Regions from separate parts of the Homo sapiens genome. Here region 2 is linked to region 1. Evidence: fine-mapped expression QTL. A gene starts in region 1. The other region holds a variant in brackets. All regions are shown on one strand. Distances are between the middles of the regions.

The links. PIP is the estimated chance that this variant, and not a neighbour inherited with it, causes the effect.
Region 2: its variant is fine-mapped to the expression of MLKL in whole blood (INTERVAL, PIP 0.91).

The regions. Positions count from the first base shown.
Region 1 is chr16:74,693,597-74,710,592 of GRCh38, forward strand. MLKL (mixed lineage kinase domain like pseudokinase) reads right to left here and starts at 7,266. Exons shown (of 11, transcript NM_152649.4): 1 at 6,857-7,266; 2 at 1,702-2,163. The coding sequence starts at 2,161. RefSeq lists a silencer at 699-868 and an enhancer at 6,720-7,169.
Region 2 is chr16:74,674,435-74,688,893 of GRCh38, forward strand. It overlaps MLKL (mixed lineage kinase domain like pseudokinase), which reads right to left. Exons shown (of 11, transcript NM_152649.4): 5 at 11,052-11,149; 6 at 8,217-8,352; 7 at 4,465-4,546; 8 at 1,179-1,330; 9 at 921-970; 10 at 526-666. Among named protein-coding and RNA genes, the nearest start is that of RFWD3, 15 kb to the left of the region's middle. RefSeq lists a silencer at 7,633-7,831. The variant A/G (reference allele first, on the strand shown) is at 4,722.

The sequences.
Region 1 (16,996 bases):
TGGTAAATTTTTTTTTTTTTTTTTTTGAGACGGAATCTCTCTGTCGCCCAGGCTGGAGTGCAGTGGAGCGATCTCAGCTCACTGCAGGCTCCGCCCCGCGGGGTTCACGCCATTCCCCCGCCTCAGCCTCCCGAGTAGCTGGGACTACAGGCGCCCACCACCTCGCCCGTCTAATTTTTTGTATTTTCAGTAGAGACGGGGTTTCACCGTGTTAGCCAGGATGGTCTCAATCTCCTGACCTCATGATCCGCCCGCCTCGGCCTCCCAAAGTGCTGGGATTACAGGCGTGAGCCACCCCGCCTGGCCGAAATGGTAAATTTTATGTTATGTATATTTTATCACAAAAAATGGGAAAAAATGATGGGTGTATGTATTGGGTTGTTTTTGAATTTGTGTGCTGCTAGTATGATCATAAAACAAAACAAAACAGTAGGGTAGATGCCAAGTAGGAAAACAAGCTATATAATTCAATGGATATTTACATGGGAGGATATTTAAGATTATTTAATGAGAAAAGAAGAAATAGAACAATGTGCTTGGCATGATGCTGACTGTGTGACAACAACAATAAAATATATATACTTAAATCTCCAGAAGGGTATTCAAGAAACTGGTAGATTGTGTGATTGTATCTCAGATTTTGATAAAGGTTGCACAAATATCCTACCAACAATGGATGAGATTATCATTTTGTCTATATGGTTTCCATCAGACTTCCCCAGTTTTAGTACTGAAGGTCTCATGTCCTCAGAAAGGGAAACAGGGGCCCCTGAGGTCAAGGAGGGAGATTTACTTCTCACGCCGGCCCCCTCCATCCTTTGTTTTTGGAGACAGGATCTCGCTCTGTCGCCCAGGCTGCAGTGCAATGGAGAAATCGTGGCTCACTGCAGCCTCGACCTCCTAGGTGCCTGTAATCCCAGCACTTTGGGAGGCTGAGGCAAGAGGATCACTTGAGGCCAGGAGTTCTACACCAGCCTGGGCAACATAGTGAGACTCTCTAACTACAAAAAATAAAATAAAAATTAGCTGGGCATTGTGGCGTGCACACCTATAGTACCAGCCACTCGGGAGCCTGAGGTGGGAGGATCACTTGAACCTGAGGCTGCAGTGAGCTATGATTGTGCCGCCGTCCTCTAGCCCGTGCAACAGAGACCCTGTCTCAAAAAATGAAACAAAACAAAACAAAACTCCTCTTCAACGCTGGCTTGCCCAAATTTCACCAGCCCCCACCATATATCTGGGCCAAAGGATGTTAGGAGTTTTGTTTGTTTGTTTGTTTGTTTGTTTGTTTTCTGAGGCAGAGTCTCGCTCTGTCGCCCAGGCTGGAGTGCAGTGGCGCGATCTCAGCTCACTGCAAGCTCTGCCTCCCGGGTTCACGCTGTTCTCCTGCCTCAGCCTCCCGAGTAGCTGGGACTACAGGCGCCCGCCACCATGCCCGGCTAATTTTTTGTATTTTTAGTAGAGACGGGGTTTCACCGTGTTAGCCAGGATGGTCTCAGTCTCCTGACCTAGTGATCAGCCCGCCTCGGCCTCCCAAAGTGCTGGGATTACAGGCGAGAGCCATCGCGCCCAGCTAGGAGTTTTGAGGTACAAGTATATTACAACTGCTCAAACTTCATCATTGCTGCTCCTTTGGTAAATTAAAGTGAGACTAAAATGCATTCAACTGCACTCCCACTCCCCACCAAAGACCCAGCTTGCCTCTTCTTAGCATCTGGAAAGCTCGCCTGTCTTCGTCTGCATCCTGCTGATCTTCCTGTGCCCAGGACGCTCCTTGGCTTATGGGTGAAACAGGCATGCGTTGCTCAACCTGAAGTAACAGCGAGAGCTCCTTCCAGACATCACTCAGCTTCCTGTTCACGTCCTTGAAGAGTATTTTGTCCTGGCTTGCTGTTAGAAACCTGCAGATATTGGATCTATTGCTGAACTTTTCTATCTCCCCATTAGCCTCCTCCAGGGCAGCCTTGAAGCGGTTCATGGCTGTGGTTAACTTCTCAGAGGGCACGCTCCTCTTTCCTTGGTCCTGGAGCATCTCCAGAGGCTTGATCAGGCCGAGGACGCGGTGGCCCAGGCGCCGGCACTGTTTCTTGCAGTATTTCATCTCTTCACACCGTTTGTGGATGACCTGGCCAAGGGTGATAATATGCTTCAAATTTTCCATGCCTGGAAGAAATGAATGGAATTTGGTGAAATCCCCAAATCTCCTGCATATTCACTACTTGGCTAAGAAAGAATCAAAGCGGTCTGTGACTTAAATGCCTGAGGAGGTCTCCCCAGCATTTTCATGCAAGATAGAGATGGTTTGCTACCCACCAAAATCTGTTCTGCCCTTGCACAATAATAGAGTTGTAGCTGGGAAGAGCTGGTCCAGCCGGAACTACATCTCCCAGCCTTCCTTGCAACTTGATGTGGCCATGTGACTAGTTCTCACCAATGGGGTTTAAGTGCATGTGACCTGCTCTACTTCGGACTGGGGCAGCTGTGCCGCCTCCTCACACTCTCCCTTGGTTGGCTGGATGCGTGGGGTGAAGCGGCCCTGGGGTGGTGGAGCCCCAAGAAGAGTCCTGAGTCCCTGGATAATCACTTGGAGGAGAGCTGCCCACAGACCTGGAACGTCTGTCATGGACTGTTAAGTGATCAAGGAATAAACTTGTATTGCATGTAAACCGTTAATATTTTCAGGTTGATATGTTTATATCAGTTTCGTCTATTACAGATATATCCTGCTAAAGCATAGAGGTTTCAGGGGCCAGGCGGGTAATTCAAATGAGTGAAGTGAGCTGAGGTAGTCTTTACTGCCACAGATAAATATGTTTCTTTCTGTTTTTTTTTAAAACATGTGGACTATCTTTCATTTTTCCTACAAAAAATTGTTCAGTTTCTTCCTACAGTCCTTTAAGAAAAATGCAGCTGGGCGAGGTGGCTCCCACCGATAATCCCAGCACTTTGAGAGGAAGAGACAGGAGGATTGCTTGAGGCCAGGAGTTCCAGACCAGTCTGGACAGCAAAGTGAGACCCTTTCTCTACAAAAATAAAAAAAATAAAATAAAATAAAATGAAATAAATAAAATATAAAATTGGCTGGGCGCGGTGACTCACGCCAGTAATCCCAGCACTTTGGAAGGCTGAGGTGGGCGGATCACTTGAGGTCAGGAGTTGGAAACCAGCCTGGCCAACATGGTGAAACCCCGTCTCTACTAAAAATACAAAAATTAGCTAGGTGTGGTGGTGCATGCCTGTAATCCCAGCTACTCGGAGGGCTAAGCCAGGAGAATTGCTTGAACCCAGGGGGTGGAGGTTGCACCATCTCAAAAAAATGTAATACATTACATATATATAGTAATATATATAATATTACATATATATAGTAATATATATGTAATATTACATATATAGTAATACATATATATAATATTACATATATATAGTAATACATATATATAATATTACATATATATTATATATATAAGTTAGCCTGGTGTGGTGGCACACACCCGTAGTCTCAGCTACCTGGGAAGTTGAGATAGGAGGATTCCTTGAGTCCAGGAGGTTGAGGCTGCAGTGCCAGCTTCCTACTCTTAACCTCTCTCTCTTCTCTGAACATGAGTGAGGAAGCACAGAGCCCTGATCCTAAAGCTTGGAATGAGGCTAACCTGAGCATGGTAGAATGGAAAGGGAGAAAGAATCTGAGTCTTTGATGACAACATTGAGCCACTGGTTTGAACTGACATGAAGTGTACCCCATCCCCTAACTGCAGGTTTCATGAACCAATAACCTCCCTGATTGTTTAAGGCAGTTTGAATCATGTTTGCTTTATTTGCAACTGAAGCCGACTGCGTTCAGCAATGAATGATGATAATAATTATGACACTAGATCTCTCAATTCACCTACTACATCCTAAGTGCTTTGGAACCCCCAGCTCTCCATGGTTATTTTCATTTAACAGATGAAGATACCATCTGGGCACAGTAGTTCATACCCGTAATCCCAACATTTTGGGAGGTAGAGGTGGGAAGATTGCTTGAGGCCAGGAGTTCCATTCTGGGCAACACAGCGAGACCCATCTCTACTAAAAATACAAAAATTAGCTGGGACCTGTAGTCCCAGCTACTCAGGAGGCTGAGGCGGGAGAATCGCTTGAGCCTGGGAGGTTGAGGCTGCAGTGAGCTATGATGACACCACTGCACTCCAGCCAGGGAAACAGAGAGACCCTGTCTCGAAAAAACAAACAGGTGAAAAGTGAAGATGCTGCGGTTCAGGGAGGTTGCATTCAAATAATCACAAGGCCATGGAACCAGTTTTCAAAGTATTTAAAATAAAGTTAGGGTAGGGTGTCATGACTCAAACCTGTAATCCCAGCACTTTGTGAGGCTGAGGCCAGGGGATCGTATGAGCCTGAGTTCGAGACCAGCCTGGGCAACATGGTGAAACCCTGTCTCTACAAAAAAATACAAAAATTTGCTGGATGTGGTGGTGCTTGCCTGTAGTCCCAGCTACTCTGGAGCCTGAGGAGGGAGAATTGATTGAGGCTGGGAGGTCGAGGCTGCAGTGAGCCATGATTGTGCCACTGACTCCATTCCAGCATGGGCAACAGAATGAGACAGTGTCTCAAAAACACCACCACCACCACCACTAACAAACGACAACAAAAAACAAAGTTAGTTTTTTTTTTTTTAACAGCTCAGTGAAATAGGTAGGTTAAGTATTATCGCCAGTTTATGGATTAATTAGCAGCTTGGAGAAAATAATTGGCCTGGAGCCCAAGTATGGCTTTAAAACATGAGTAAGGCACTGGCAGAAGTGAAACTAAATAAATGAGCAATCGATATAGTTGTGTTTTTGTTGCCTGAGAGTTACAGTGATTGGGCAAGGGAGGTAACAGTTATTAGGGCACTCCTAAAAAGACTAGTGGATCTCAGACTACCCAGCTATTCCCACGTGCTAAGCAGATATCTTCAAGGCCATTTCTTGGGAATTGTGAGGGCAAAAGGTTTTACACTTTCTCTGTTGCACCAGAAACAGAAGCAAATGTGGCAATGTTGTTCAAGGAATCTTGCAAATTGTAGCTTCCTAGCTCTAAGCTCCAGTTATCTTACCAGCAGCCTCATCAGAAAGCCATATCTCAGCACTGAACTAATCAGAAAGGAAAATGGGGAAAATATCCCACCCATAGAACTGACAAACAATTTCAAATAATAAATTATACAGTGGTGGCATGGTATGAAGAAAATTGCAGCGGTCACATTGGCTCATGCCTGTAATCTCAGCGCTTTGGAAGGCCGAGGCAGGTGGATCACCTGAGGTCGGGAGTTTGAGATCGCCCGGCCAACATGGTGAAACCCCATCTCTACTAAAAATACTAAAATTAGCCAAGCATGGTAGCAGGCGCCTGTAATCCCAGCTACTCGGGAGGCTGAGGCAGGAGAATTGCTTGAACCCGGGAGGTGGAGGTTGCACTGAGCCGAGATCACACCACTGTGCTCCAACCTGGGCAACAGAGCAAAACTCCGTCTCAAAAACAAAAACAAAAACAAAAAAAAAGAAAGAAAGAAAATTGCACAAAACAAAGCTTGAAGAAAGGAGGAAAGAGAAGTGTTATATTTCTGGCTGGGAAGACTAAAACAGACCAACCCAGCAATCCTTCCCAAATTTAAATCCAATTTAATGCAGTTCCAATAAAACATCTACTGACATATTTTGGCATTAAATCAAAATGATCCTAAAGTTCATTTGAAATGGGAAATTAGTAGGGATAACCAGGATTTTAAAAAATAAAGAAAAGGGGACTTGCCTGTATGAAATTAAAATATATTAAAAACTGCAAAATATTGGGAAAAAGCACCCTACAATAACTTAAATTGTTTAAGGTCTTATTAAGTATATGATCTACAAGGGAAGAAAGGGAATATACATATATACACACTTAGACTGGGCAATTTGAATTTCTAGGAACTTATGATGTAGAAAAGCTTGTGTTTGTAGATAGATGGCTACCGAGATGTTCACTGCAGTGCTATTTATAATATGTAAAACAAACAGCTAAGAATATGTTCAGGCCAGCTGCAGTGGCTCACACCTGTAATCCCAGCACTTTGGGAGGGTGAGGTAGGAGGATCACCTGAGCCCAGGAGTTTGAGACCAGCCTGGGTGACAAAGCGAGACCCTGGCTCTACCAAAAAATACAAAAAAAATTTAATTGGGTGTGGTGATGTGCACCTTGTAGTCCTAGCTACTTGGGAGGATCTGGTTGGAGGATCACTTGAGCCCATGAGTTCGGAGGCTGCAGTGAGCTATGATTGTGCCACTGCGCTCCAGCCTGGGCAACAGAGGAAGACTCCATCTCTCAAAATAAATAAATAAAAAGAAAAAGGGGATTATGTTCATATGTTACGATGAGAAAACAGGTTACTAATTTTAAAAGTGAAAAATCTTTAAATGGTAATAACAATGCAAATTCACCTCTTCCCTCCAAAAAATAAAAAATAAAAATAAAATAAAATAAGTAAAGGTTATCAGGCATTTCCCTCTTCTCTCTCTCTCACTCTGTCTCTCTCTCACGCCTTCAGCCTGCAAACCTGAAGACTTCCTTTTTCTGAGAAGACATCAGGTAACTTGTTCCCGTGCCCCTGCCCTCCACGACCCCCACTGCTACTGGGCGTCTCGCTTTGGCGGAAGGTAGTGCGAGATCCGAGCAGGCAGCTCCACCATCAGAGCTGAGGAAATGAAACCAACTCGGTCCTGAGTTCCAGGAACTCGGACCGGGCCACCCTCACCCCTGGTTCTTCCCATCACCGTCCAGGAATTCGGCTGCAGCCCCTCGGCCCCGCCGCCTCCTGGGAAGACCCCATGCTCACCTTCGCGCCTCCCGAGGGGTGTGCGTCCAATCTGTCCCGTGCACAGTTCCAAAAAGCTCGCTCTTCCACCTTCTTTCCCACGACCGCCTCCTGCCCAGGCGAGAAGTTTGCAAACGCGAGGCCCGCGGGAGTTCCCCTGCGCCCCCTTTCCTGGTGCCCGCACCCTGCACTCTGCTGACTGTACCGGACGCCACACGTGGCTGGCGGCGACAAGGCGCCCCGATCCCTACCTGAGGGAAACCCCGGCCACTGCAGCTGCACTTGAGCAGGGTCCCTCCACTCAGCCACTTGGATGGCTGTTTCTGTCCAGTGCCCTCCGGAGGCCACTGCCTCAGGTCTGTGATGCCTGCAGAGAATGCTGCGACACTTCCCCCTCCGACGTGGCTCCAGCTGCCAACCACCAGGCTCACGGTGCCCTGGCTCCCTGGAGCCGCTTTCTAGGCAGCTCGGAGCCACGGCCCCTCCCTTCCTTCCTCCTGTCCTTTCCACACTCTTCCTGCCTTCCCCAAAGTCACTGGGTAACTACGCTGTACACGTCAGTACCAAGCCTTCTTTAGGGGCTGGGGATTCAGAATAGAATAAGGTCCCAGCAACTATTATAACCAGGACACAGTATGAGAAGGACTGGAAGTTTAGAGAAAAACTGAAAGTTGGAGAGAAGCTTCTGGTGTTTGCTTCTCTGTGCTGGATAATATTGGCGGGGTGGGGAGGGTACGAGGGAAGAGACACCAAAGTGGGAAAAAAGTCACTTCCTCTTCTAAGGTCATTGCAGAACATCCTGTTACAGTGTGAGTCAGGTTTTCTTAAGATTAACTACATCTTCAGCTAGAAAGTCTAAGTAGTGTTATGCATTTACTCAACAGACTATTTGCCTCTAAAAGAACAGAACTGGGAGCTGGGTGTGGTGGCTCATGCCTGTAATTCCAGCACTTTGGGAGGCGGAGGTGGCCAGATCACCTGAGGTCAGGAGTTCAAGACCATCCTGGCCAACATGGGGAAACCCTGTCTCTACTAAAAATACAAAAATTAGCCAGGCGTGGTGGTGCATGCCTGTAATCCCAGCTACTCGGGAGCCTGAGAGGGGAGAATCGCTTGAAGCCGGCCTTGGAGATTCATTTCTTCGCCTTGCTATTGTTCTTCGTCTCCTGCATCATCAGTTTTCTTCCTGTCTTAGGTGAAGAGATTGAGGTGAGGCAGGAGAATAGGGTCTGCAGGCAGGGAACATAAAGCTGATTCACGCTGACTTCTTAGAACTAAATAAAATGGACACATTTCAGCTATGACAGGAAATATTTTCTTCATTTACATATGGCGTTCACTGAGTAAGTGACTGAGCAACTTCACTTCATCTTCTTCATTTACATAGGGTGTACACCAATTAACCAATGGGAGCCTCTAGAGGGTATTTAAATCCCAGAAAATTCTGTAACGGAGTTCTTGAGCCCCTATGCTCACGCTGGCTCCCACCCTGTGGAGTGTACCTTTGTTTTCAATACATCTCTGCTTTTGTTGCCTCATTCTTTCCTTGCTTTGTGCATTTTGCCCATTTCTTTGTTCAAGATGCCAAGAACCTGGACACCTTCAACAAGTAACACAGGTGCCTGTGATTTATTGAAGGAAGACTCTTAGGAGAGTGGTGGGTATGATAGGGCAGAGGAAGAAAAAGTGAAACAAGTATGTAGTCAGTGGAGGCTCCATGGGGAGGTCTGGAATGTGAAGGTCTGGAACAAGAGGCAGCCTCCTTTCTGCCCAGGGCAATTCTTCTGGACGAGGGGGAAGCTGTGTGAGTGTTTAGCTGTCAACACTCATAGCAGCTGCAGGATGGGTATACTGATCTGCTATAAACAAAATCATACAATGTATAACCTTTTGGAAGTTTTTTTCTTTTCTTTTCTTTTTTTTTTTTTTTACTGTCCCACCATCAATGTACAAGACATTCAGTTTCTCTGCATCCTCAGCAGCATTTTATTTTGTCCCTGCCTGAATTTTTAGCTATTCTAACAGGTGAATAGTGATATATCATCATGGTTTTTTGTTTTGTTTTGTTTTGAGATAGAGTCTTACTCTGTTGCCCAGGCTGGAGTGCAGTGGCGCCATCTCAGCTCACTGCAACCTCCACCTCCTGGGTTCAAGCGATTCTCCAGCCTCAGCCTCCCAAGTAGCTGGGACTACAGGCGTGCACCACCACACCTGTCTATTTTTTGTATTTTTAGTAGAGACAGCGTTTCGCCATATTGGCCAGACTGGTCTCGAACTCCTGACCTCAGGTGATCCACCCACCTTGGCCTCCCAAAGTGCTGGGATTATAGGCATGAGCCACTGCGCCTGGTCTCATCATGGTTTTAATTGGCATTTCTTTAGTGCCTGGTGATGATGGACATGTTTTCATGTGCTTGTTTGCCATCTGTATAGCCTCATTGGTGAAATGTCTGTCCATGTCTTTTGCCCATTTTTAGTTGAATTCTTTTTAAAAAACTTGAGTTTTGAGAGTTTAAATATTCTAGATATTAATCCTTTGCCAGATAGGTGGTGTTCAAATGGTGGTGGAGTAACTGAACAAAAAAATGAACTTCACCTAAACCTCATATTCTATGCAAAAATTGCCTGAATGGATCAGAGATTTAAATGTAAAATGTAAAACAAGGAACCTTTTAGAAGAAAGCAGAGAGAACTGTGCAGAATGAAAGGACATTTCCTGTTGAGAAAATGTAAATGTTTGAAAAAAGTTTAGGGCCGGTCGCAGTGGCTCACGCCTGTAATCCCAGCACTTTGGGAGGCCGAGGTGGGCGGATCACGAGGTCAGGAGATTAAGACCATCCTGGCTAACACGGTGAAACCCCATCTCTACTAAAAATACAAAAAAAAATTAGCCGGATGTGGTGGCGGGTGCCTGTAGTCCCAGCTACTCGGGAGGCTGAGGCAGGAGAACGATGTGAACCCAGGAGGCGGAGCTTGCAGTGAGCCGAGATCGCGCCATTGCACACCAGCCTGGGTGGCAGAGTGAGACTCCGTCTCAAAAAAAAAAAAAAAAAAAAAGAAAAGAAAAAAGTTTAAATGAGCCCTTTAAAATGTTTTTATTTTTAGTAGAGACAGAGGTCTCCCTGTGTTGCTGAGGCTGATCTTGAACTTCTGAACTCAAGCAATCCTCATGCCTTGGCCCCCCAAAGTGTTGGGATTACGAGCTTGAGCCACCTTGCCTGGCCAAATGAGTCTATTTAATAAGAATGGCTATTCATACTAAAAATTGTACAATATTAAAAATAATTCCCAGTTTCTTTGGCTTTATCTTGGAGTTGCCATTTGAAAAAAAAAATCACAAACATTTGAAAAAAAAAAAAACTTGTAGAACATGTAGAAGAAAATCTTCAGAACCTAAGGCTAGGCGAAGAATTCTTAGGCATAACATCAAAGCCATTATTATTCTTTCTTCTTTTCTTTTTCTTTCTTTTTTTTTTTTTTGAGACGGAGTCTCCCTCTGTTGCCAGGCTGTAGTGCAGTGCTGTGATCTCAGCTTACTGCAACCTCCACCTCCAGGGCTCAAACAATTCTCCTGCCTCAGCCTTCCAACAAGCTGGGACTACAGGCATGTGCCACCACGCTTGGCTAGTTTTTTTTTGTATTTTTAGTAGAGATGGAGTTTTAGCATGTTGGCCAGGCTGGTCTCGAACTCCTGACCTCAAGTGATCTACCTGCCTTGGCCTCCCAAAGTGCTGGGATTACAGGCATGAGCCACTGCGCCTGGCCCCAAAGCCATTATTCTTAAAATTAAAAAATGATAAATCAGACTTGATCAAAATTTGAAACTTGCTCTGCAAAGACCCTTTTAAGGGGATGAAAAGACAAGTTACAGATTGGGAGAAAATGTTTGCAAATCACATGTCAAATAATATGCTTCTAAATAATTCATGAGTCAAAAAGGACATTTTCTCAAGAGAAATGAAGATATATTTTGCTCAATAAATTTAAACAGATCAAAATCATACAAAGCATCTTCTTTGACCACAATAGAATAAAACTAGAAATAAATAACAGAAAGAGAACTGGAATATTCACAAATATGCAGAAATTAAACAACATACACTTAAACAACTAGTGGGACAAAGAAGAAATCACAAGGGAAATTAGAAAATACTTCGAGACAAATAAAAGATACAACATGCCAAAACTTAGGGGATGCAGCAAAAACAGTTCTCAAAGGATAATTTATAGCTACATGGCTACAAAAGAGAAAAAGAGAGAGGCCTGGTGCCGTGGCTCATGCCTGTAATCCCAGCACTTTGGGAGGCTGAGGCGGGTGGATCACGAGGTTAGGAGTTCAAGACCAGCCTGGCCAACACGGTGAAACCCCGTCTGCTAAAAATACAAAAAAAAAAAAAAAAAAAATAGCCCGACGTGATGGCGGGCACCTGTAATCTCAGCTACTCAGGCGGCTGAGGCAGGAGAATCGCTTGAACCCAGGAGGCAGAGGTTGTAGTGAGCCAAGATCATGCCACTGCACTCCAGCCTGGGTGACAGAGTGAGACTCCATCTCAAAAAAAAAAAAAAAAAAAAGAGAGAGAGAGATCTCAAATCATTATCCCAACTCTACCCTTTAAGGAACTAGTAAAAGAAGAACAAATCAAACCCAAAACTAGCAGAAGGGAGGAAATTACCAAGATCAGAAAAGAGAAAATCAATGAAACTGAAAGTTAGTTCTTTGAAAAGATTAATAAAATTGACGAATCCTTAGCTAAACTAAAACAAAAAGAAGATGAAAATAACTTAAATCAGAAATGAAAGTGGGGACCTTACTATCTACCTTACAGAAATAAAAAGGACTATGAGAGAAAACTATGAACAATTGTTTGCCAACCAATTAGGTAACCTAGAGGATATGGACAAATTCCCAGGCACGCAAAATTTACCTAATTCACTCAATGAGAAATAGAAAATCTGAACATACCTACAACAAGTAAAGAAATTGAATTAATAATCAAAACTCCTCCAAACAAGTAAAGTCCAGGCCTAATAGTTTTACAGTAAATTCTACCAAACATTTTTTTCTTTCTTGGAGACTTTTATTTATTGTATTTATTATATTTTTTTATTATATTTTAAGTCCTGGGGTACAGTGCAGAATGTGCAGTTTTGTTACATAGGTATACACGTGCCATGCTGGTTTCCTGCACCCATCAACCCGCCACCTACATTAGGTATTTCTCCTAATGCTATCCCTTCCCTAGCCCCCACCACCTGACAGGCCCTGGTGGGTGATGTTCACTTCCCTGCGTCAATGTGTTCTCATTGTTCAACTCCCACTTATGAGTGAGAACATGCGGTGTTTTCTACCAAACATTTAAAAATAAATTACCACCAATCATTCTCAAACTCTTCCAAAAATAGGAGAGGAGGAAACACTTCCTAACTCATTTTAAGAAACCAGCATTACTCTGATACTAAAGCCAGATAAAGACACAAGAAACGAAAACTACAAGCCAATATACCTTAAGAATCCAGAGGCTAGCTGGGCGCAGTGGCTCATGCCTATAATTCTAGCACTTTGGGAGGCTGAGGCAGTTAGATCACTTGAGCCCAGGAATACGAGACCAGCCTGGCCAACATGGTGAAACCTAGTCTCTACCAAAAATACAAAAAAATAGCCAGGCATGGTGGTGTGCGCCTGTAGTCCCGGCTACTCGGGAGGCTGAGGTGGGAGGATCACTTGAGCCCATGCCACCACACTCCAGCCTGGGCAACAGAGCAAGACCCTGTCTAAAATAATAATAATAATAATAAAAAGCAATACAGAAAGTTACATGGATGTAAAAACCTTAACCAATTTAAAGCTCAGTTTTCCTGAGTAACTGAAACCTAATAAAGACAACATAGGAAATTGTCTTGGTAAAACATAAATTCTTTGTTTTTTTTTTTTAAGGCCAGTTACCAAAAAGATTAAGAAAAATTTCCTGTACTGTGATTGCTTCTCTTTATAGGAAGGCTGTTTAGATAACCTGAAAGTTACACCTGATGAAAAGAGTAATAAAATTTAATCAGACATAAGAAGAATGTGTCCAAGGTTATGAGGGTACACTGTATTATAGAAGAAAGTAGGCCAGGCATGGTGGCTCATGCCTGTAATCCCAGCACTTTGGGAGGCTGAGGCAGGAGGATAACGAGGTCAGGAGATTGAGACCATCCCAGCCAACATGGTGAAATCCCGTCTCTACTAAAATACAAAAAAATTAGCTGGGCATGGTGGTGCACGCCTGTAGTCCCAGCTACTTGGGAGGCTGAGACAGGGGAATCGCTTGAAACCGGAAGGCGGAGGTTGCGGTCAGCCGAGATCACACCGCTGCACTCCAGCCTGGGCGACAGAGCAAGACTCCATCTCAAAAAAAAAAAAAAAAAGGAAGAAAGTAAACAAACAAGAAAACTTGTACCTTGATAAGGGGAATAGGTGATTCTTAGCAACAGGATGGGAAGTTTTCTGGCAAAAATTCAGACACATCAAGAGTAGCCAAGAGTACAGAATCAAGGTATAGTGAAAGAAAGCATTGTTCTTCCAGGCCTTTAAGATAAACATTTCAGTGTCAGGCTATAAGGGCAGAGTTAGACTGGAGAAAAAAAAGTTATAAGAGGTGATGAAAAGGTTGAAGGAAAGAGTCACTATCCCAGGCAAGGTCTTGCTCTATTGCCCAGGCTGGAGTGCCGTGGTGTGATCATAGCTCACTGCAACCTCAAACTCCTGGGCTCAAGTGATGCTCTTGCCTCAGCCTCCGAAGTAGCTAACACTACAGGTGGTGTACCACTACACCTGGCTAATCTTTAAATTTTTTCATAGAGAAAGGGTCTTGCTATGTCGTCCAGGCTGGTCTTGAACTGGCTTCAAGTAGTCCTCCTGGCTCCCATTTCATAATTTTTAAAAACATGTTTTTCCATAATAAAATTTTTGGATGTATTAATAGACCCAATAAATGTAATCTTTTACAAAATGTAAGCATCAAAGAACACACTTGTATTTATATTCAGTAATTTTGTTCATTAAAAAATAATATTTTTCATATGGTTCATAAAAAATAATGTGTTCTTGTATTTCATTAAAAAATACTATTTTTTAATGAAACAAATTGACCCAGACATTTAACGAATATCTATTATTTTGTTTAACCTAACATAACTTCAAAATTTCAAATTACATGAAAAGTTCATTTATAGACATTTATCCTATTACATTTACCTAAGTTATTTATGTTTTTTTTTTCAAGACCTCACTCTGTCATCCAGGTTGAAGCGCATTGCCGCAACCTCGGCTTACTGCAACCTCCGCCTTCCTGGTTCAAGCGATTCTCCCGCCTCAGCCTCCCGAGTAGCTGGGACTACAGGCATGCACCACCATGCCTGGCTACTTTTTATATTTTTAGTAGAGATGGGGTTTCACCATATTGGCCAGGCTGGTCTCGAACTCCTGACCTCGCGATCTGCCCGCCTTGGCCTCCCCAAGTGCTGGGATTACAGGCGTAAGCCACCGTGCCTGGCTAGTCTTTGGAATTTTACCTGCGGGATTTTTTTGAGGCCTGAATTGAAGATACATTTCTCCATAAAACAATTTTAATTGCTTCCTCTGAGAGCCTTGTGGCTCCACCAACCGGGCTATTTTACATCACAATTTTGGCTTGAGGTGTTTCAGATCACCCGGTTTGCACGAATTCAGGCTTCAGACCTCAGTGAGGACTCTCCTTGTGGCTCTGCATCCTCAGCCTTTACCCACTCCACGCAGGAGATTTCACTTGCAGTGCCCTGGGGAGGTGGGTTTCCTCTTGGTTCACTCTTACATTGAGGATATGACCCTTTGGGGTCTGTAGCAAACACATCTGTTCCTCCTCATCATGCCCCCTCTGTCTGCCTCTGGTCTTAGCCTCAATTGCGGTGGAAGGTTCTGTGTGAACTCTGTCTCAGCTTTCATTTCAGCCACAGTTCCAGTGGCTAGCTCCTGCCTAACAAGCTCATACTCAACTTGTACTGATAGAATCCCACTACAAATGCATACCTCTATGTTCCTGCTTTTGTCCAAGGACTTTTGCCAAAGCCAGCATCTGCTTGGCTTGCATGGCTGGGAAGTCCCTAAGTGAGGGTGAATCGATGTCACTGAAGACAGTCCTCACCCATAGGAGTGGAAGCTGGTGATAAATGCTCCAGCCTCCTGTCCTATTGGACAATTCCGATACATTTTCTCTGTGCTTCTCAAGATGCCCTTACAGAATCTGTAGGAGAACCTCACATACTCAACCTTACACTGCTCCTCCAACTTCTCCCTTTCTAGACCTCCCTGGTTCTCGCTCTTTATTTCTGCAATCACCTCCCAAATAGACTGCCTGCATCCATGTGCTTGTTTTAGGTTTTGATTTTTGTTTGTTTGTTTGTTTTTTTGAGACAGAATTTTGTTCTTGCTGCCCAGGCTGGAGTGCAGTGGTGCGATCTCAGCTCACCACAACCTCCGCCTCCTGGGTTCAAGAGATTCTCCTGCCTCAGCCTCCCAAGTAGCTGGGATTACAGGCATCGGCCACCACGCCCGGCTAATTTTGTATTTTTAGTAGAGACGGGGTTTCTCCATGTTGGTCAGGCTGGTCTCAAACTCCCAACCTCAGGAGATCTGCCTGTCTCGGCCTCCCAAAGTGCTAGGATTACAGGCAAGAGCCACCACGCCTGTAATCCCATTTTTAGGGAACCTAAAAGAAGATATAACCCCACTGCTTTTGCCAGAACAAAAATTTTTTTCTTCTTTTAAATTTCTTCCTCTCCGCTATAGGTGTCTGAGATGGGACAGACACTTATGAGATGAGAGTCCTGGAATTTTCCAAATTTTACATTCATCTTGTGGCATTCTTTATAGATAACATTTATTCATTGGAGCCTGGTGTGGTCTTTGGGCAAAACACCTAACTGTAAAGAAAACTCCAGTTGAAATTTTGCAACCATTATGGCTTTTTTGAAAGTTAGAACTATTCATATACATATTTCCAACTTCCTCTCAAAAATGGCAGATGAGTCAAGAATGTAAGTCAACAGAACGGGTAAATTGGGAAAGGCTAGAATTTTGAAATCACAGATACCTGCTTCCAAAACAGTCCCCGCGAGGGCAGTAATAATGGAGTAGGGCTGCATGCTGCCACCAGAGGGCAGCAGAGGCCGGGAACAGGTGGAGAGGCAAGGCCCAGTTATTCTTACCGTCTGAGATCTGATGCAGACAAGACAAGCATTTATTGGGCTCTGTTACAAGTTGGTCATTGTGCTGGGCACAATAAAAAATCACACAAAGTTCAAAGGCAGAGATCAGAGGTCAGAGCCAACGGGGGAGTGGAACAGAGCAGAATTAAGAGGGCTGTTCTTCAGATCAACTAAGGAACTCCCAAAGACAGCATGTCTGGAAATACAAACACAATACCAGAAATAAATATGATGGCTATTTTTTGGTCTGTTCTTGACCATGGAAGCTGGGTCATCCCTGGAGAATCAGGCGAGGCAAATTTGTAGGGCCACTGAGGGTCAGTCAATCTGCAGATTTACTTTATGCTGATCAGAATTTAAATGGCCCTCTTGGCTGGGTGTTGTGGCTCATGCCTGTAATCCCAGCACTATGGGAGGCTGAGCTGGGGGGATTGCTTGAGGCCAGGAGTTCGAGATCAGTCTGAGTAACATAGAGAGACCCTGTCTCTACTTAGAAAAATTAAAAAATTAGCTGGGCACGATGGCACATGCCTGCGGTCCCAGCTGTTTGGGAGGCTGATGTAGGAGGATCTCTTGAGTCTGGGAGGTCAAGACTGCAGTAAGCTATGATCGCGCCACTGCACCCTAGCGTGGGCAACAGAGTGAGAACCTCTCTCTATAAATAAATCAATAGCTACCTCCCTGAGCAAACATAAAACTTTTTTGGTTTAGTGTCTCTCCCACTGCAGGAATAAACACAATCCCACGTCACAGGTCTAGGCTTTTCCCATCAGGCCAGATGTGTTGGCATTTTGATAATATCCTGTGCTTGCTCTAACATCTAATCTTTGACTCTTACACTTGATGGCAAAATCCTCCAGCTCCCCTAGATGCTCACTGAGGTGGGGGCTGCTCCGTGAGCACTAACTGCTTGGGGATTGCAGGCCTCGTGGCCTT
Region 2 (14,459 bases), 20 kb before region 1:
GAGCCACCGCGCCTGGCCAACATTTTTTTTTTTGAGACGGAGTCTTGTTTTGTCACCCAGGCTGGAGTGCAGTGGTACAGTGGCGTGATCTTGGCTCACTGCAACCTCCCAGTTTCAAGAGATTCTCATGCCTCAGCCTCCTGAGTAGCTGGGATTACAGGCATGTACCACCATGGCTAGCTAATTTTAGTAGAGATGAGGTTTCACCATGTTGGCCAGGCTGGTCTCAAACTCCTAACCTCAAGTGATCTGCCCATCTCAGCCTCCCAAAGGGCTAGAATTACAGGCATGAGCAACCGCACCCAGCCATCATCCTTGGCCTTTATTCACTAGATGACAGTAGCACACTCCATCCTACCTCCCTGGCCTTATGACAAACAACAATGTTTCAGACATCACTAAATGTTCCCCGGATAAAACCACCCCTCGTTGTAAACTACTGCCTTGGAGCTGGTGAAAAGGAAATCTTTCACAAGTGTGAAATAATGATGGGGCTCACGCTCTTTACACCAGAAAGAACCCTACCATCCACAGAGGGCCGCACAGAGGGATCATGGGCCCGGCACTCATCAATGATCTCCCGCAGCTCTGAAGGGCAGTCTTCACCCAGTGGCTCCTGCTGCCGCTTCACAGCCACCAGCTTGCGGATCTTCTCAGAATTACAGCCTGGAAATGATAGCATGAGAGCCTCAAAAAATTGCTCCGCTACTCGTACATCTCTCTGGATGCTGATGGCTGGCATCAGAACTAGGGACTCTGAGTATGGAAACAACAAGAACTTCCAACGATTCCACTGACCAGCCCAGGCAGTTCCCACATTAAACAACAAATTGCCAGGGGCAGCACTGATGGGGAATTTCTGGTCTACTGGAAGGGGACCCAACCTCACCACTGGCTGAGCCAGTCTTCACATTCTTCACCTTGAAACGGGATATCTCCAGTGGCGATTTCCCAGAGGACGATTCCAAAGCTAAAAGAAAACCAAGAAACTGAACAACCATAACTAGTCTCCCCTTTCCCCTGTCCCTCTAGCCACTGCCAGAAAACTCAGTGAATTTTTTGATTACTACCCAATTTCATTCAACAGAGTTGAGTTTAGGTGGTCCTTGGAGGAGTTTGATTTGGGTTTTCCTATTATGCACATCTGAGTTAGAATCTGTACCAGAACGTGAGTGTACCTGTATATTTCAGACTTTACATCATATTGATAAAATACATCTTCCAGTTCCTGAGGTGAGAGATATGCTGTAGATTTGACTCTGTCTGTCTTTTCTCTCGTAGTTCCCAAACTCATGGAAGTCTGTGTTTTCCTCAACTCAAATCCTGCAAGCTAGATAGAGAGGCAACTTAGAAAGAAACAAGCAAGATCTTGGGTAGAGGAGTAAAGGGCAGGGATTGTTGCTACACACAATTGCCAGGGAATTGTCTTTTACCTTAGGGATTTATTTCCTGTCGTGACTTCTGTCTGTGTGGCTACTTTATTGGTTAACATTATGGGTTCAACTTATCACAGTGCAGTGACCAAGAGAAACACAAAGAGATTTCTTCTGTATAAAATGGGGCGATGACAGGGGGGATTACTTGAGATAATGGTTATAAAGCACCAGTAAGACCTGCTAAGTTGTAGTTGTTGCCAGTATGACTATGTTAAAATGTAGGGGTTTCTCAGTTGAGGACTGAACTCCACTCAGTGAGAGTGGAGAGGGGTCATAGAGCCACTGCCTGGCTCGCCTTTTCCCAAAGAAGCAGATGGAAAAATGGCATGGGGGCATCCCCTCTGTGCTATCTGACTTTATGGGGGGTCAGCCTGATCCTTTGGCTTTGGCGTGACGAGTGTGAGTCATCCCCCCAGGCCTGCGCGGTCACCTGGTGTTCTTAAAGAAACTGTAGCACAATCATGACAGCATATGTTCTTGTCCCATGCACACCTGCCATTGACACCATTGGTGTGCTGAAGGCTGCCAGCCCCAAACTCAGCCAGGTACCCAAATCTAGGGGCAATGTGAGAAAAGGGATAAGGCACTTAGATGGCTCATCCCCCTTTCATTCATTCATTCATTCATTTGCTCACACGTTTCCTGAGCACTGACATTCTCTTACATCTAGCGCCGTATGGGATACCAGGGATGAAAGGTGGAATAGCGCATCTTATAGTCAGGCTGCATGAAGAGCGTGAGAGTAGTAGAAACAGTGTTTTGGGAGTACTTATATCACCATCGCAGAGGGGGAAAGGCATCTGAAAGGCAAAAAAGGCCTGTCTGCTATTATTTGAGGGCTGTCTCTGACACTCGTAGGACTGGAAGAAAGAAAACCGTCTATGGATGACAAAGAAAACTGCTAAAATTCTTTTAGCATTTGGGAATTGTGGACACTGAGTTCACAAAATCTTTTCCTCTTCTGTATGAAAATCTGACTTCCAGTGAACTTCTTAGCTCTGTTCCCCTGGAAATCTGATACAGGTAGACTGTCACCTATGGCTCTTAGTAACATTGCTGATGATGAAAATAAAAATGACTGCTGATTGTTAGATTGCTTCTGGGCAGGATCAAGGGGGTAACAGGACTACACAGTAAACAGCTGATGGGAATGCTTTGTAGCAAATTTTTCTTATTTATTTATTTATTTATTTATTTTTTGAGACGGAGTCTCACTCTGTCGCCCAGGTTGGAGAGCAGTGGTGCAATCTCAGCTCACTGCAAGTTCTGCCTCCTGGGTTCATGCCATTCTCCTGCCTCAGCCTCCGGAGTAGCTGGGACTACAGGCACCTGCCACCACGCCTGGCCAATTTTTTGTATTGTTTAGTAGAGACAGGGTTTCACTGTGTTAGCCAGGATGGTCTCGATCTCCTAACCTCATGATCCACCTGCCTTGGCCTCCCAAAGTGCTGGGATTACAGGTGTGAGCCACCGCGCCCAGCCTCTTTTTTATTTTTTGAGACAGGGTCTCATTCTGTTGCCCAGGCTAGGGTATACAGTGGCGTAAACATAGCTCCCTGCAGCCTTGACCTCCTGGGCTCTAGGCATCCTCCTCCTGCCTCACTCTCCTGAGTAGCTGGAATTACAGGTGTGCACCACCATGACTGGCTGATTTTTAAATTTTTTGAAGAGGGGGAGGTCTCACTGTGTTGCCAAGGCTGGTCTTGAACTCTTGGGCTCAAAGTGATCCTCCTGCCTTCCCTTCCAAAGTGCGGGGATTACAGGCATAAGCCACCATGCCTGGCCATGTAGCAGCTCTTTTCTTTTCTTTTTTCTTTTTTTTTGGAGATGGAGTTTTGCTGTTGTTGCCCGGGCTGGAGTTCAACCACGCGATCTCGGCTCACTGCAAACCTCTGCCTCCCGGGTTCAAGTGATTCTCCTGCCTCAGCCTCCTTAGGAGCTGGGACTAGAGGCGTGCGCCACCACACCCGGCTAATTTTTTGTATTTTTAGTAGAGACAGTGTTTCACTATGTTGGCCAGGCTAGTCTTGAACTCCTGACCTCAGGTGATCCACCCGCCTTAGCCTCCCTAAGTGTTGGGATTACAGGCGTGAGCCACCATACCCAGATGTGGCAGCTCTTAAAACAGCAACTCACATGTCACTTGCAGAAACACTGGAAGGCATGCCTGCAGAGTTGTTACCAGAGATGCTGACTCCTGCAGGTCATGGGCTTCTAAGCCTGGATGACCCACACCCACCTAATGGGAGCCTCTTTCTCCAGCACCTGTGGCTCTGACAAAGAGAGTATCTCCTGGATGACTGCGAGGACTCACCCTGGAGGGAAAGGTTTGGCGCTGCTGACATCCTTCTAAGTAACTGAATGACAAGTGTGGCCTAGACCTGTCCTGTGAGTCTGAGTCCTTAAACCTAACAAGATCCCCCATTGTATGTTGTAGGGACATAGAAGTGGTGTCCAGGCATCTAAGGGGAAATGACTTGTAGCCCATCCCTGCTAAATGGGCAGTGAGGGAAGGCAGTCATCAGAACAGGCGGCATAGATGGAGACTGTTGTGTGGTGGGCACACAGAAAGTTGAAGTTAGTTCTGAAACTAAAAAACTAAAATTGAACTCAGTTCTAAAACCAAGGCAAGGCCGGGCATGGTGGCTCATGCCTGTAATCCCAGCACTTTGGGAGGCCCAGGTGGGCGGATCACTTGAGGCCAGGAGTTCAAAACCAGCTGGCCAACATGGTGAAACCCTGTCTCTACTAAAAATGCAAAAATTAGTCAGGAGTGGTGGTGCATGGCTGTAATCCCAGCTACTTGGGAGGCTGAGGCAGGAGAATCGCTTGAACCTGGGAAGCAGAGGTTGCAGCGGGGCGATCTCGCTCACTGCCCTCCAGCTTGGGTGACAGAAAGAGACTCTGTCTCTAAATAAATAAATAAATAAACTAAGACAAGAATCAAGCCTTTCTGAGACACTCGTGCCCCTCTCATAGCACCAGTCATGCAGGTTTGACCCAAAGCGCCCCCGCAAGGCACACTCACCTTCACTTGGTAGCCTTGAGTTACCAGGAAGTTTGAGCTTCTGATTTTTCCGTGGAGTTCAGGTGCTTCTGAATGGTGTAGCCTGACACAGCCAAAGGCGGGGAGCATAAGTACCTTTGCCCAAACTTTCTTTGGGGGACTGACAATCATAACTGGGCTGATGAGGCTGGACAGTACCATGGGTGCCTGTCCACAGTTACACAGGAAAAACTGGGATGTAGAGGCAAGGTTTGAGAATCACAAGCCGTGAGTATAGA[A/G]CAGAGATGAGATTCATAGCACAAGGGGGCATGACAGCCCTTATGAAGTGCATGCAATCGGGCATCAGGGGTGCCTTTAGGTAGAGAAGGACAACGTTGCCTCTGTGTTGCTTTGCCTGGGAAGTGCTGGGCAGATCCGAGAGCTCAGAGGCATGGCTGGGTGGCTGGACCTTGCTGGGACCCTTCAGGTCAAAGCAGAATGTGAAGCTGGGGTCCCGCTGACTTCCAGACAAGGGCTTTGGTTTCACAAAGCCCCTGCGTCCCAGGTTGGGTTGCACTCATGGTGTCTGCCTGAGCTCAGATTCTCCCAGAAGCAGATCATGAGCCATGATTTGGGCACGAGGGATTTGTATCAAGAAGGTGCTCCCTTGACCAGGCATGGTGGCTTGCGCTTATAATCCCCACACTTTGGGAGACCAAGGTGGATGGATCACTTGAGGTCAGGAGTTTGAGACCAGCTTCGCCAACATGGTGAAACATCATCTCTACTATTAATAAAAATACAAAAAAATAGCTGGGCGTGGTGGCATGTGCCTGTAATTCCAGCTATTCAGGATGCTAAAGCATGAGAATCACTTGCACCCAGGAGGTGGAGTTTGCAGTGAGCCGAGATCACGCCACTATACTCCAGCCTGGGCAGCAAAATGAGGCTCTGTCTCAAAAAAAAAATAACTCCAAAAGTCCCCCAAACAAACAAAAAGAAGGTGCTCCCAGGAGAAATGGTTGAGGGAGTACAGGAAGTAGGATGGCGAAGGAGAAGAAATCAAGCAAGAGGTTGATTTCAGGTGAAATCCCAGGCTCAGGTGGTCTCGCGGAGACCTGTGGGCACAATTACACCTCAGAGTGTGTCCCACAGGAAGCAAAGGAACTGGACTTTTATACTTACACCAGTCAGTGGTTATGGACTGTGTTGGGGAGGGCAGGGACAGATGGATATAAAACTCGTGGGCACTTTCAGCTGTCTATAAGGGTGAAAGGGCTCCAGTGCCCACAGGCAATCCTCTGAAGATTGCAGCTGTGAACTTTCAGCAGCAAAGCATGCCGAGAGGGGGATGGGTAAATAGAGCTGGTAAAAAGGATCAGAGGTCATTTGGAGGGGATATTAACAGTGTCCCCTACAACATCCAAAAATACTTCTCCTTAAACTCACTAGTTTAGGGAGTTGAGAAGAAACAAACTTAATTTCAAATTAATAGCTAAGACAGTGTTTCCAAAAGTGTGGGATAAGGTGGTATGCAAGATTATATAAAGGGAAAATTACTCTCCTTTCAGTTTGCTCCAGTCTTTCTGATTACATCAAGAAGAAAGTCTGCGTTTGGTATTTTTTTTTTGTTTTTTTGTTTTTGTTTTTTGTTTTTTGTTTTTTTATGAGACGGAGTCTCGCTCTGTCGCCCAGGCTGGAGTGCAGTGGCACAATCTCAGCTCACTGCAACCTCTGCCTCCCAGGTTCAAGCGATTCTCCTGCCTCAGCCTTACGAGTAGCTGGGACTATAGGTGCGTGCCATCACGCCCAGCTAATTTTTGTATTTTTAGGAGAGACGAGGTTTCACCGTGTTGGGCAGGATGCTCTTGATCTCTTTACCTTGTGATCTGTCCGCCTCAGCCTCCCAAAGTGCTGGGATTATAGACGTGAGCTACTGCGCCCAGCCTTGGTGTTGGGTATCCTTAACTCTGCCAATATCTCCAATATCTCCATTGTACAAAGAGAATGTGGGTTGGATCACAGAGCTTCTGGCAGGCAGCCTCATCCAGCCAGAATTTAATTACATTGTTTTGGTTTCATTTGTGGTTACCTATTTTTGGCAAGTGACACTGGTTTTCAATTTATGGTAGTAAGAGAAAGTGTCCTTTTTAAAAGCTTTATTTCAATTATTATTATTATTTTTTGAGATGGAGTCTTGCTTTGTCGCCCAGCCTGGAGTGCAGTGGTACGATATCAGTTCATTGAAACCTCCGCCTCCTGGGTTCAAGTGATTCTTGTCCCTCAAGCCTCCTGAGTAGCTGAGATTACAGGCCTGTGGCACCATGCTGGGCTAATTTCTGTATTTTTAGTAAAAACAGGGTTTCGCCACGTTGGCCAGGCTAGTCTCCAACTCCTGACCTCAAGTGATCCACCTGCCTTGGCCTCTCAAAGTGCTGGGATTATGGGCGTGAGCCACTGGGCCAGGCCTTTATTCCGATTTTTAAAAAGTGAGTCAATGTAATGAAAAATGTTAAGTAAATAACACTGGTAGTAGTATAGTTAAAACCCTGCAGATGGTTTGTGAGTGACTAACCTTTGGGGACCCTTGGGACTAAGAATCCATAGATTCTGCAGGTGAGAATAGGTAGAGTTGCCAAATAAAACACAAGACACGGCCGGGCGCGGTGGCTCACACTTGTAATCCCAGCACTTTGGGAGGCCGAGACAGGTGGATCATGAGGTCAGGAGATCGATACCATCCTGGCTAACATGGTGAAACCCCGTCTCTAATAAAAATACAAAAAAATTAGCCAGGCGTAGTGGCAGGCACCTGTAGTCCCAGCTACTCGGGAGGCTAAGGCAGGAGAATGGCATGAACCTGGGAGGCAGAGGTTGCAGTGAGCCGAGATCGTGCCACTGCACTCCAGCCTGGGCAACAGAGGGAGACTCCATCTCAAGAAGAAAAAAAAAGAAAAGAAAAAAACACAAGACACTCCATTAAATTTGAGTTTCTGATAAGCAATGAATATATAGATTCACGTACACGCATATATATATGTACAAGCATGCCCACAAATTGTATAGGACATAGTTGTACTAAAAATAAATGTTTATCCAAAATTTGAGACTGGGTGCAGTGACTCATGCCTGTAATCCCAGCACTTTGGAAAGCTGAGGCAGGAGGATTGCTTGAGCCCAGTAGTTCGAGACCAGCCTAGGCAGCATGGCAAAACCTTATCTCTACAAAAAATATATATAAAAAAAAAACTGGCTGAGTGTAGTGGTGTGCGCCTGTAGTCCCAGCTTCTCAGGAGGCTAAGGTAGGAGAATCCCTTCAGCTCGGGAGGTTAAGTGATCTGTGATCATATCAGTGCACTCCAGTCTGGGCAAGAGAGTGAGACTCTGTCTCAAAACATAAAATAAAATTTGATATTTTTGATATTTAGTATAAGTATATACCATGCAATGTTTAGGATGCACTTATACTAAAAAATGATTCATTACTTTCCTAACGTTCAAATTTAACTGGATATGTTCATTTTTATGCTAAATCTGTCCACTCCAAAATTAGGGCTCATCCAACTCTATAAGTGCAGTGTGGACATCAATTTCAACCGTCAGTTCTGGGAGCTGGTGTTCCCTGGGTTAAGCCTCTTTCCTCCCTCCTATCTGTAATCAGAGTAAATAGTAAAACAGTGTATGGGAGGGAGACTGTCTGGGGCGTCTGGCCTGTTCTCTCACCATCTCTGGGAGTATCAGGAGTGTGGACAGACCCATCCAACCCTTAGTGGCGCCTTTTCACCCCGTCTTACCGGTATAGGCCTCGGGCTGCCCCCAGGACTAGGACCATGCGCTTGCCAAGTGTGAGGTCTTTTTCCCTATCCAACAGCTCCCTCAGGGTCCCGAGTTCACAGTACTCCATGACAATGGAGAATTGAGGCGGAGTCACTGGTGGAAAGGAGCCAGACACTATGAGGACCCGCCCTACTTGAAGCTTCCCATGTCTGCAGCCCACCTCTCCCAGCCTCGGTACAGATACAGACTTGGCTCTGCTGAGTCCCATTTCTCCCCCAATCCTCAGCCCACAGTTTTGGTCCCCGGCCTCCTTGAATGGACCAAATATGCCCAGAATTCCCATCCTCTTCTCCATAATACTTGGCTTGTCGTAATTCTACCTTAAAAAAAAAATTGGCTGGGTGCGTTGGCTCATGCCTGTAATCCCAGCACTTTGGGAGACCAATGTGGGTGGAACACAAGGTCAGGAGTTTGAGATCAGCCTGGCCTACGTGGTGAAACCATGTCTCTACTAAAAATACAAAAATTAGCTGGGTGTGGTGGCAGGTGCGTGTAATCCCATCTACTTGGGAGGCTGAGGCAGGAGAATCACTTGAAGCTGCGTGGCAGAGATTGCACCACTGCACTCCAGCCTGGGCAACAGAGTGACACTACATCTCAAAAAAAAAAAAAAAATGTTCTGCCAGGTGTGGTGACTCACGCCTGTAATCCTGGCTCTTTGGGAGGCTGAGGCTGGTGGATCACTTGAGGCCAGGAGTTCGAGACCAGCCTGGCCAACATGATGAAACCTCGTCTCTATGAAAAATGCAAAAATTAGCCAGGTGTGGTGGGACATGCCTGTAGTCCCAGCTATTAGGGAGGCTGAGGCAGGAGAATTGCTTGAACCTCGGAGGTGGAAGCTGCAGTAAGCATATTGTACCACCGCACTCCAGCCTGAGTGACAGAATGAGACTCTGTCTCAAAAAAAAAAAAAAAAAATTCTTTTTCTTTTTCTTTTTTAACTTCTATCTCCCTTTCTTGGTATAATTCAAAATTTTCTTGAGCAGTTATTTGGCGAATGTCTTCCTCACTCAACTGGATTCCCAAGAAGGCAGGAAATGTGTCTGTCTTGTTCACATGGGTGCTCACAAGAAGCTTCGTACATCTGTGTGGGAGGAATGAGTAGGGCACACATGGCAGGGGCGGGTGAGGACTCAGACAAGAAGTCGACTTCCCCATTCATGGGCCTGAGCTGCAAAACTGACATGTGACTGAGCCAGGCACCTCAGCGGTCCCCAAGGAGAACAAACGTTGCTGAACATTTGTCTTTATTTTTTATTTTTTAATTTTTTTGAGACAGAGTCTAGCTCTGTCACCCAGGCTGGAGTGCAGTGGCATGATATTGGCTCACTGCAACCTCCGCCTCCCAGGTTCACGCAATTCTCCTGCCTCAGCCTCCCGAGTAGCTGGGACTACAGGCACCCACCACCACGCCCAGTTAATTTTTATATTTTTAGTAGAGACAGGGTTTTATCATGTTGGCCAGGCTGGTCTCAAACTCCTGACCTCAGGTGATCCACCTACCTTGGCCTCCCAAAGTGCTGGGATTACAGATGTGAGCCACCGTGCCTGGCCTACGTTTCCCTTTAGATTGGGATTCCACACTCTGAAATCAAGTTGGCCTGAGGCTGTGGAGCAACTTCCAAAGGGGATAAGACAGGAGTTGCTCTGTCCAATCTCTAGGCAAGACGGCAGCAAAACATGACCAGCAGGAGGGGTCATTCCATGAGAGAAAATGCAGTCACATTGGGAAAAAAAGAAAAAAAAAAAAAAAAAAAGAGCCTGTCACATAAGGCTCTTGGTAGAGGGGTAAAGTAATGGTTTTTTTTTTTGTTTGTTTGAGACAGAGTCTCACTCTGTCACCCAGGCTGGAGTGCAGTGGCATGATCTCGGCTCACTGCAAACTCCGCCTCCCAGGTTCAAGCAATTCTCCTGCCTCAGCCTCCCGAGTAGCTGGGACTAGAGGCATGTGCCACCACATCCGGCTAATTTTTTGTATTTTTAGTAGAGACGGGGTTTCATCATGTTGGCCAGGACGGTCTCAAGCTCCTGACCTTGTGATCCACCCACCTCAGCCTCCCTAAGTGCTGCTGAGCCACAGCGCCTGGCCAGGTAAGTTAATTTTGCTTTTAGATTTGTTCTATACTAATGATGACCAAGGGTGTTTTCCTTCTTTGGGTCAGACAGCTTTATAATTTATTTTTATTTTTGAGACGGAGTCTTGCTCTGTTGCCCAGGCTGGAATGCAATGGTGCACCCTCAGCTCACTGCAACCTCCGCTTCCCAGGTTCAAGCAATTCTCCCACCTCAGCCTCCCGAGTAGCTGGGACTACAGATGCCTGCCACCAGACCCAGCTAATTTTTGTATTTTAGTAGAGATGGGGTTTCACCATGTTGGCTGGGCTGGTCTTGAACTCCTGACCTCAAGTGACCTGCCTGTCTCGGCTTACCAAAGTGCTGGGATTACAGGTGTGAGCCACTGCACCTGGCAGCTTTATAATGTTTTAGAGCAACAAGATGCACCCCTCTTCCAGGCTGGCATCTAAACATGCACCCCCTTATTTCCCAGTGGGCTGAAAGGAGAAGATGTGGCCATGTTAGTGCAAACCACCCCTCAGCCTTCAGCCCTGCCCTCCTGAAAGAAGATGAGAACATGCATCTTGGGATGAAAAAAAAAAAATTAACATTGATAATAATCACACTTTGTGGATTCCACCCTTTGTGATGTTCTTTAAAAAAATGCAACACATTAAAACACAGGAGGTGTGTTCTAGGCCATCCAAAGCTTGACCAATCCTAGAAGCATTCCTTACCTGTTTCATCAATGCAAATCCCAAATATACGCAGGATGTTGGGAGATTCGAATTTCTTCATGGTTTTGATCTCCTTATTGAAAGTCTGCCTCACTATTCTATAAGGATTAAAGAGAGAAATCAGGATTTCAGAACTGGAAGGTTCCTTAGAGAACATTCAGTGTGGTGACCCTCTGTGTATGTGGGGGCGGGGGTATCAGCATCTGGGGTGAGAACTGGTGCCAGGATGAACTCAGCTACTGATAACAACATGTGGAACCCCTCAGGTGCCTGTGGCAGCACAATTAGTCCCTCGGGGTCTGTCAGATATTAATGGGACTTGCTAATATCTTTTCAGTAGTTCAAATAGTCTGATAGAATTGTATTTTTATGACCTACAGGGCTTTACTAGGCAAACTAAAAAGTCAAGTATTTGTTACTGTTTTTAGGCTGTAACCTGTTGTTTAGCATATACTCTGACAGATTGTGGTGTGTGTCTTTTTTTTTTTTTTGGAGACAGGGTCTTGCTTTGTCACCCAGGCTGGAGTGCAGTGGTGCGATCTTGGCTCACTGCAGCCTCCACCTCCCAGGTTGAAGCAATTCTCATGCCTCAGCCACCTGAGTAGCTGGAACTACAGGTGCGTGCCACCATGCTTGGCTAATTTTTGTATTTTTTTTGCAGAGACATGATTTCACCATGTTGGCCAGGCTGGTGTCAAACTCCTGGCCTCAAGTGATTTGCCTGCCTACGCCTCCCAAAGTGCTGGGATTTCAGGTGTGAGTCACCGTGCCCAGCCCGTGGTGTGTGTCTTTGATGAATAAAAATAATGATACTAGGCCGGGCGTGGTGGCTCATGCCTGTAATCCCAGCACTTTGGGAGGCCGAGGCAGGTGGATCACAAGGTCAGGAGTTCGAGACAATCCTGCCGAACATGGTGAAACCCCGTCTCTACTAAAAATACAAAAAAATTAGCTGGGTGTGGTGGCGGGCGCCTGTAGCCCCAGCTACTTGGGAGGCTGAGGCAGGAGAACGGCGTGAACCCAGGAGGTGGAGCTTGCAGTGAGCCGAGATCACACCATTGCACTCCAGCCTGGGTGACAGAACGAGACTACGTCTCCACACACACACAAAAAAAGATATTTATTAAGTGAAATCTTATAACCAAAATTCCTTCCAAAACGTGGGCCTTAAAAAATGTAGGCAGGTAAATTATTAAAGAGGATCACTGGAACCACCAACTCAATCCAATCTGTTCATTCACTCTGAGTCTTAGACTCAAAGGGCAAAGGAGGCTTGTCCAAGGTCTGTCAGAGAATCAGGGCAGGTTCAGAGCCTATAAAAATCAATTGTATTTCTATCTGCTAGCAATTAACAATCAAAAGATTAAATTAAAAATTTTCATTTCCAATAGCATAAAGAGAATAAAATACTTAGGAATAAATTTACAAAAGAAGTGCAAGTCTCACCCTGAAAATTTTGTACCTAAATTGTTGAAAGAATTTTGTTTTGTTTTGTTTGTTTGTTTTTTGAGATGGAGCCTCACTTTTGTCGCCCAGGCTGAGTGCAATGGCATGATCTCGGCTCACTGCAACCTCTGCCTCCTGGGTTCAAGCAATTCTCCTGCCTCAGCCTCCCGAATAGCTGGGATTACAGGCGCTTGCTACCATGCCCGGCTAATTTTTGTATTTATAGTAGAGGCGGGGTTTCACCATGTTGGCCAGACTAGTCTCGAACTCCTGACCTCAGGTGATCCTCCTGCCTCAGCCTCCCAAAGTGCTGGGATTATAGGCATAACTCACTGCACCCAGCAAGAAATTTTAAAAGATCTAAATAAATGGAAACACGTCCCATGTTCTTGAATAGGAAGACTTTATACCATTAAGATGGTAACATTTTCCAAATTGACCTACAGGTTCAATGCAATCCTTACCCGATTTGTAGTTGGCTTAAAAAAAAAAAGCAAAAACAAAAACTGAAATTGACAAGATATTCCTAAAATTTGTGTGGAAATGAAAGGAATTCAGGATAGCCAAGACAGTCTTGCAAAAGAAGAACAAAGCTGGAAGACTTATACTTCTCAATTTCAAAACTTATCACAAGGTTACAGTAATGAAGACAGTATAGTGCTATCATAAGACTAGACAAACAGATCAATGGAATAGAATTGGGGGTCCGGAAATAAACTCATACATATAAAGCCAGTTGATTTTTCACAGTTTTTTTTTTTGGAACTTGCTCTGTCACCCAGGCTGGAGTGCAGCGATGCAATTTCTGCTCACTGCAATACCTGCCTTCTGGGTTCAAGAGATTCTACTGCCTCAGCCTCCCAAGTAGCTGGGACTACAGGTGCCTGCCACCACGCCTGGCTATTTTTTTTTGCGATGGAGTCTTGCTCTGTCAAGCAGGCTGGAGTGCAGTGGCGTGATCTCAGGTCACTGCAAGCTCTGCCTCTCAGGTTCACACCATTCTCCTGCCTCAGCCTCCTGAGTAGCTGGGACTACAGGTGCCCGCCACCACACCTGGCTAATTTTTTGTATTTTTAGTAGAGACGGGTTTCACCATATTAGCCAGGATGGTCTTGATCTCCTGACCTGGTGATCTGCCCGCCCTGGCCTCCCAAAGTGCTAGGATTACAGTCGTGAGCCACTGCGCCCAGCCAACGCCCGGCTAATTTTTGTATTTTTAGTGGAGATGGGGTTTCGCCATGTTGGCTAGGCTGGTCTCAAACTCCTGACCTCAAGTGATCCACCTGCCTCGGCCTCCCAAAGTGCTAGGATTACAGATGTGAGCTGCAGTGCCAGGCCAGCACAGTCTTTTAAACAAATGGCTCTGGGACATGTGAATATCAACATGCAGAAAAATGAAGTTGAATGACTACCTTATACAATACACCAAAATTAACTCTAACTTCGGAAACCTAAATATAAGAGCCAAAAACTATAAACTCTTAGAAGAAAACACAGGAGGGCCAGGTGCAGTGGCTCAAGCCTGTAATCCCAGCAGTTTGGGAGGCCAAGGTGGGTGGATTGCTTGAGGTTAGGAGTTTCAGACCAGCCTGGCCAACATGGTGAAACCCTGTCACCACTAAAAATACAAAAATTAACTGGGCCTGGTGGTGCATGCCTGTAGTTCCAGCTACTCGGGAGGCTGAGGCATGAGAATTGCTTGAACCTAGGAGATGGAGGTTGCAGTGACTGATATCACACCACTACACTCCAGCCTGGGTGACAGAGCAAGACTCCATCTCAAACAGAACAAAACAAAAAACCCCCAAAACCTGTACATGAATGTACACAGAAACATTATTCATAATAATCAAAAAGTGGAAAAAACACAAGGTCCTTCAATTGATTAATGGATAAGTAGGATATCCATACAACAGACTATCATTCAGCCATAAAAAGGAATGAAGAAATGATACTTGCTAT